2 linked regions of the Homo sapiens genome follow. The protein of the gene in region 1 purifies or fractionates together with the protein of each later gene. This does not show direct contact. Each region holds a gene or a part of one and is shown in the gene's direction. Other genes may lie near its edges. The genes, in order: ABCC8 and LMBR1.

Region 1 (3,814 bases):
AATGGGACTGGGAGTGAAATTATGGCCTGAGGTCTGATCAGCCACAGAGAGGCTAAGGTTTGGGGTTCTGGGTGTGGTGCAGTAGTGTGCCTTTGATTAAATGGCTTCCCTCTGTGTGCCCCCGTTGTCCCCTCAGTAAGTGGGGATAAAATGCCCTGATTCACCCTCAGAGGGATGGAAATGTGTAGCCACAGAGTGGGTTCTTGCGGCCTGCAGAGGAGGCAGCTGAGAGCGAGGAGGATGACAACCTGTCGTCCATGCTGCACCAGCGTGCTGAGATCCCATGGCGAGCCTGCGCCAAGTACCTGTCCTCCGCCGGCATCCTGCTCCTGTCGTTGCTGGTCTTCTCACAGCTGCTCAAGCACATGGTCCTGGTGGCCATCGACTACTGGCTGGCCAAGTGGACCGACAGCGCCCTGACCCTGACCCCTGCAGCCAGGAACTGCTCCCTCAGCCAGGTGTGACTGGCGGCCCATGGCAGAGGTTGGGAGTGGGGATGGGGGAAGGGCTGAGCCCATGGGCACCCTGGAACTCCAAATCACTCTCTGCCTGTGAAGGAGTGCACCCTCGACCAGACTGTCTATGCCATGGTGTTCACGGTGCTCTGCAGCCTGGGCATTGTGCTGTGCCTCGTCACGTCTGTCACTGTGGAGTGGACAGGGCTGAAGGTGGCCAAGAGACTGCACCGCAGCCTGCTAAACCGGATCATCCTAGCCCCCATGAGGTACCCGTCTCCCCTGGCCAGGCTGGGACTGTGAGCAAGTCACTGTTCTCTGAGCCTTAGTCTTCCCATCTATAAAATGGGGATATACAACCTGTCACAAGCTTGTGGGGGTGACTCAAGGAGACAGTGTGTGTAAAAGTGCCCTCCTTGTGCAAGAAGCAGGGAGAAACTGGCATTTACTCAGCCAGATACTGTGATAGGCATTGTGTGTGGTTAGCTCATTTAATTGTTACCATGGCCCTTTAAAGTGAGCGTCTGCACATCCAAGTAAAGATTGTTTTCTCCTCCCTAAGTGGGTGTAATTTGCCCATCCCCACCCATGAGTTCAGCTCCCTGCCCTCCCCTCACTCTCTCTCCCTCAGCCAGCCTCAGGTTTTGACACTGGGGGAACAGGTAGCTGTTCTATTAATAATTTCCTGTAATGGGATGGATAAAAATCTCAAAGGCCACTTGATGTCAAAGAGGTTTAAAGTTGTCCCTGCCCAATTGGTTGGCCAACTTGGCTTAAAAACACAACAGGCAAACAGATTTTCTGGCCCCTTGTCGAGGCTAGACCTCACAATCTAACTGCACTTTTTACTTTCCAGCCTCATGAGTTTTCTGTGGCCCACAGATATGGCCTCCAAGTTTATTTACTTTTACTCTCTATTTGCCCCAGCTCTGTAGTTCTGAAACTCCCTGGTTGGGGTTGGGCTGACTCTGGGTCAGCCAGCCGGCAGGCTGTCCCCAGGGCCCTGTTCCTCTTGGCAGGTTGTCCCTCTGGAGAGGACTCTGTGTCCCAGGAGGACAGCTGCTGAGTCAGGCCGAGCCGGCAGCTGAGAAAGGCGGCAGTCGTCAGATGGGCTTGAGAAACTGAAAGGCTAACGAAAGGCCAGCGCCCCTTTGGGCAGCTGCAGGAATTCACGGGGATACAGGCCAGATGTCTACAAATTGGCAGAGGATGCCAGACCCATGAATGACTCCAGAGACACTTACATGAAATAATTAACTATCTCATTCAGTAAACAGGAAGTAAATCAATGGACAAATGAGTAACTCTTCCTCTGGCTGCCTCTTAGGTTTTTTGAGACCACGCCCCTTGGGAGCATCCTGAACAGATTTTCATCTGACTGTAACACCATCGACCAGGTACAGAGGACCGTGCCACACTATCCCCCCTTCCAGAGACACCTCGGACCCCTGGGGGCTTCTCCTGTCTGAGGCTGGGTTCCCCAGATCAGGTGATCACAGCCCTCTGGGAAGAAGCCAGTGTCCCCGATCCGATTATAATGCTGCTTCAGGGCTGGGGCCTCCCTCGTGGGAGCCTCACAGTAAGGCTGAGGGAAACCAGATCCCTTTAGCTTCCACCTGAGATCCCACTGGCTTTCTCTAGTAAAGTTCCAGCATATTCTGAACCAAGGTGGCTGATTGTATGGAGAATATTCATTTTGATTCAGCCTGTGTTCTTTATTTACCATTGTACCAGATGGTGTGAAAACAAAATCTTGATTCCTACCTCAGGGAGTTTACCTTGTAGCTGGAGAGATGAGATACGTGCCTATAATAAAGGGAGAGCAAGGCCGGGCTCAGTGGCTCACTCCTGTAACCCCAGCACTTTGGGAGGCGGAGGCAGGCGGATCACTTGAGGCCAGGTGTTCAAGACCAGCCTGATGGCCAACATGATGAAACCCCTTCTCTATTAAAAATACAAAAATTAGCCAGGTGTGGTGGCAGGTGCCTGTAATCCCAACTACTTGGGAAGCTGAGGCAGGAGAATCATTTGAACCCAAGGGGCAGAGGCTGCCGTGAACCGAGATTACGCTGCTGCACTCAAGTCTGGGCAACAGTGAGACTCAGTCTCAAAAAAATAAAGGATCAAAAAATAAAGTGAGAGCAAAACATGGCGGCCAGTAGCACTCTAAACACAGTCAATACCAAAATTCACCTCACTCTCTCCCCCTCGTCTCCCTCAGCACATCCCATCCACGCTGGAGTGCCTGAGCCGCTCCACCCTGCTCTGTGTCTCAGCCCTGGCCGTCATCTCCTATGTCACACCTGTGTTCCTCGTGGCCCTCTTGCCCCTGGCCATCGTGTGCTACTTCATCCAGAAGTACTTCCGGGTGGCGTCCAGGTGATGGCCTCAGGGGTGAGGGGTGGGAGGTGCTTTGCAATGTGCAGTTTGGTGTACTTGCTAGACTCATCGTTATGAGAGTAATAGGGTCGTGTTCCCTCCAAAAAATAAAAACAAAAAACAGAAATGAAGGAAATAGAAATATCCACATCTTATTCCACCGCCCTAATATAATAGTCTGCCAACACACGCACACACTGAGGTTGACATCTGAATTATTTCCTTGGGCGATATGGTCAGGACTGGAATTGCTAGGTCATGATAAATGCACATTTTATGCCCTTCATTCATTTTGCCAACATGCTTCCCAGGAGGGTTGCATCATTCTAGTGGTCAGGCTGATTGCTGATGCATGAAATCGGCGGGCACCTGATTCAAGCAGTGTTATGATAACACCTCCCAGCCCACGTGAGTCCAGAGTGTAGCTGTAAGCCTTGACTTGAGGGAGCCTCTCACAGCCATTCTCATGGATCACATTTGCCCTCATGAGCTTTGGATCCATGCACGCCTCTTTCCTCCTCAAAATTTTCTAAGAATGTTCTCTAGGGAGTTCTTTCTGGGAGTGATTCTCCCAGATTCATAGAAACTCATAGATTCAAAAAATTGTAGGAAAAAATTTAAAGAACGTCTAGGCCAGTGTTTCTCAAACTGCCAATTACAGCCCATCAGTGGGTCATGAAATCAATATCATGGATCACAACCAGCATTTTTTTAAAAATGAAAAAAACATCAGACTGTATTCATAGAGTAAAGCAAGCTTTGCTTCATGAAACCTTTGTGTTGGTCATGGAGGTGTGTGAGTACTGATTTGTGAGATAAAATATATTTCTGACTGCAGGTTGTGGTCAGAAAGGTTAAGTACCTTTCCCAAGTGCACATAGTTGGCTAGAAACTAGAGTTGAGATACTTATTAGCAATAATAAAATTTAGATGCATTTTGGACACAATTACCTGCCCCAAAGGATCAACATTTGTATAAA
Region 2 (3,814 bases), on another chromosome or scaffold:
CCCTTAAAGAATAAACTGGTTCTAACTGCCTCAAGGTGTTTCTTTTTTTCTAGCGGCTAAACAAGCACTGGCCTCCAGATAAGCAATATTAAGATAACTGCAGCTCACTCACTGCCAGACCCTAAGTGATCCCCACTCTCCTGTTCCACAAGCCATAACTATAGCTTTGATTGGACAAGAGACTGATTTCAGTAACTTTCTCCTGATAAGAGCACTGAGCATGAACTGGTTCTGGCCAGTTTACAGAGGCTGTGCACTTCAGTGCCTTCATGTCCCTGCTTCGCCATCTGACTACAGGGCCTCATTGTAATCCTTTTAGATGTTAAGTCTCCACCCACAAGTGAATATGGATAAGTATGTAACATACATGTTTATTCAGCCTGCATGTGCATGACCTCCCCCACTTTGTGAATATTCATAGCTCCTCCTATAACCTGTTAAATATATAAACTTGGCCAACCCGTTCAGCATAAATCCCTGTTCTATCCTCCCTTGAAGGTCTGTTTCTGTGCTCTGCGGGAGGATGCTTCCCAGCTATCAGGATTGCCACCTTGTAGGCTGTGACTCTTTACAAAATTATTTTTGAGGCAGAGTGTGGTTCCGTCACTCAGGCTGGAATGCTGTGGCACAAACACGGCTTACTGTAGCCTCTATCTCCCAGGCTCAAGAGATCTTCCTACTTGAAGGAAGTCTTTTTTTTTTTTTTTTTCTTTTTTTGAGGCAGAGTCTCACTCTGTCACCCAGGCTGGAGTGCAGTGGCACTATCTCAGCTCACTGCAACCTCTACCTCCTGGGTTCAAGCAATTCTTGTGCCTCAGCCTCTTGAGTAGCTGGGATTACAGGTGCCACCACCATGCCTGGCTAATTTTATTTATTTATTTATGATATGGAGTCTCTGTCACCCAGCCTGGAGTGCAGTGGCACAATCTCGGCTCACGATAACCTCTGCTTCCCGGGTTCAAGTGATTCTCCTGCCTCAGCCTCCCAGTAGCTGGGATTATAGGTGCCTGCCACCATGCCCGGCTAATGTTTTTGAATTTTTAGTAGAGGCAGGGTTTTACCATGTTGGCCAGGCTAGTCTCAAACTCCTGACCTCAAGTGATCCTCCTGCCTTGGCCTCCCAAAGTGCTGGGATTACAGGTGTGAGTCAATGCGTCTGGCCATTTTTGTATGGACGGGTTATTTCCGTGTTACCCAGACTGGTCTTGAACTCTCCTGGCCTCAAGTAATCCTCCTGCCTCAGCTTCCCAAAGTGCTAGAATTAGAGGTGTGAGCCACCATGCCTGGCCTGGCTGCGCAATCTAAATTCTTCCTTATCCTGGGTATGGCTTAAGCTCCCCTCTTGGCTAGAATATTTTTGGAACCAAGTCTGGGGTTGACTGGGACTTTTTTTTTTTTTTCTTTTACACGGAGTCTCGCTCTGTCACCGAGGCTGGAATGCAGTGGAGCGATCCTGGCTCACTGCAACCTCCGCCTTCCAGATTCCAGTGATTATCCTGCCTCAGCCTCCCAAGTAGCTGGGATTACAGGCGCCTGCCACCATGCCTGGCTAATTTTTGTATTTTTAGTAGAGATGGGGTTTTGCCATGTTGGCCAAGCTGGTCTTGAACTCCTGACCTCAGGTGATCCGCCCCTGCCTCGGCCTCGCAAAGTGCTGGGATTACAGGCATGAGCCACCGTGCCCAGCCAGACTGGGACTTACACAACAGAGATTTTAGAACCTTCCCATTTAGTTGGCTCCTTTTAGGCCAAATGGGAGGTGGGGAGATAATGGGGATAGAAGTATCCTTCATCTACTGCCTCTCTAGATGAGTTTACCTGCTGTTTTCTACTGGTGTCTTGCCCTCAACTCTATGGCTTACCCTTTATGCAGGAGATAAAAAACTTTAGTCCTTCCCACTTGGGAATAGTGGTTGGGCAGAAGGTGGGAACCAATCACCAATCTTGTATGTAAGTTCAGAATGCAGTTATCTTGGAGTCTGTAGTCTTCTGACCTTTGTCATTGCCCTCCAGTGAAAGACCTCCAAGAGCACACCTGTAGTTGGACAAATTGGGCTTATTGCATATTTCAGTGAGTTCCATGGGGAACTGTGGGGTGTTTCAGTAACTTTTCAAATGGGATTTGGGCTTCTACTAGGTAGTTTGGGAAGGGTTTAAGGAAGTGAGGCTTTGATCTGTATGGGGTGCTGTTAGGAAGCTGGAAAAATTCTGTAACTGGATAGCTTAAGAAATCTTTTCTAGAAGGAAAGAAGACTGGAATAAAGCTAAAGCTGTAACTGGTAAAGAAGCAACAGTCATTCCTGTTAGCCAGGATAGAGAGTTGGTCATTTCTGTGATTTGGACAATGTTCATGTTTTTTTTTTTGCTTGTGTTCAGGAGTGATTACAGAGTGGTCTTGTTTAGTCTTTATCCATCATGGTCTTGTCTGATATTGATGTTCTCTGAAATTGTTGATGTTCAGCAGAAGAGTCAGTCATCAAGGCCTAGGTGTGTGCCTTGCTCTGAGTTGTTAGCCAGTTTACAGCAACACCAAGGCCCAGCTGTGATATTACCAGGCCAGCTCCCAGATGTCAGGGGCTGCATTTCTTTTTCTCACGTGGTTGTAAAGTCTTCTAGTGGAATGATGTATTAGAAACAAATCCAATAGCCAACATAAGTTGAAGTGATTTTCTAACATAGAAGAGCAAAAAGGAATGGGATAGAGGTATAGAGGTTTCATTTGTATTTGACTTTTCTAAACTGGGTTAAATCAGCTTCCCCTCTGCGGTAGGCAGCATAATGGCCCCTGAAGTTGGTAATCCATGTGGTAATCCCTGGAGCCTGTGGTGTGTTACTTTACATGGGTAAAGGGATTTTGCAGATGTGAGTATGTTAAAGGAGAATTACCCTGAATTATCCAGGTGGGCTCTATGTGGTCACAGGGTCCTTATAGGAGAGGCAGGAGGGTCAGAGTCAGAGGAGATGTGATGACAGAGGCAGAGTTGGAGTGATGCCCTTTGAGGAAGGAGGAGGGACCATGAGCCAAGGAGTGTGGGCGGCCTCCAGAAGCTAGAAACGTCAAGGAAATGAATTCTTTCCTAGAGTCTCCAGAAGGAAGCAACCTTGCTCACGCCTTGATTTTAGCCCAGTGAAACTCAATAAATTTGTGTTGTTTTAAGTCACAAAGTTTGTGTAATTTGGTTACAGCAGCCATAGGAGATTCCTACTCCTTCATCAGGAGGCTTTGACTTTCACTGCTGTCCCTGTATATCTTACCACTCCATAGTTGTGTACTTGAGGTTAAAGGAAACTGGGACATTCTAATTACATTTGAGATAATTTTTCATGTCTTCCTATTCTGTCCTCCTTTTTTTTTTCTGAGATGGAGTCTTGCTCTGTTGCCCAGGCTGGAGTGCAGTGACATGATCTTGGCTCACTGCAGCCTCCGCCTCCCGAGTTCAAGCAATTCTCCTGCCTCAGCCTCCCAAGTAGCTGGGATTACAGGTGTGCACCACCACACCTGGCTAATTTTTGTATTTTCAGTAGAGACAGGTTTCACCTGTTGGCCAGGGTGGTCTTGAACTCCAGACCTCAGGTGATCTGCCTGCCTTGGCTTCCCAAAGTGCTGGGATTACAGGTGTGAGCCACCATGCATGGCCCTGTCCTTCTTTTTTAAACTTGATTGTATTGCAGTAAGAATACCTAATGTGAGATCTACCCTCTTAACAAAAAATTTTTTTTTTCAGTCAGAGTCTCGTACTGTCTGTTGCCCAGGCTAGAGTGCAATAGCGTGATCTCGGCTCACTGCAACCTCCACCTCCCGGGTTCAAGTGAT

Evidence for each region.
Region 2: the proteins of ABCC8 (region 1) and LMBR1 purify together in Homo sapiens (affinity purification with mass spectrometry; one large-scale study listed by BioGRID and IntAct). This does not show direct contact.

Annotation. Positions count from the first base shown.
Region 1 is NC_000011.10:17,403,532-17,407,345, reverse strand, and holds part of ABCC8 (ATP-binding cassette sub-family C member 8), read left to right. Parts: intron 1-136; exon of another isoform or gene 137-216; coding exon 217-458; intron 459-557; coding exon 558-724; intron 725-1,782; coding exon 1,783-1,852; intron 1,853-2,676; coding exon 2,677-2,834; intron 2,835-3,814. UniProt on the Homo sapiens protein: Regulator subunit of pancreatic ATP-sensitive potassium channel (KATP), playing a major role in the regulation of insulin release.
Region 2 is NC_000007.14:156,882,943-156,886,756, reverse strand, and holds part of LMBR1 (limb region 1 protein homolog), read left to right. Parts: intron 1-3,814. UniProt on the Homo sapiens protein: Putative membrane receptor.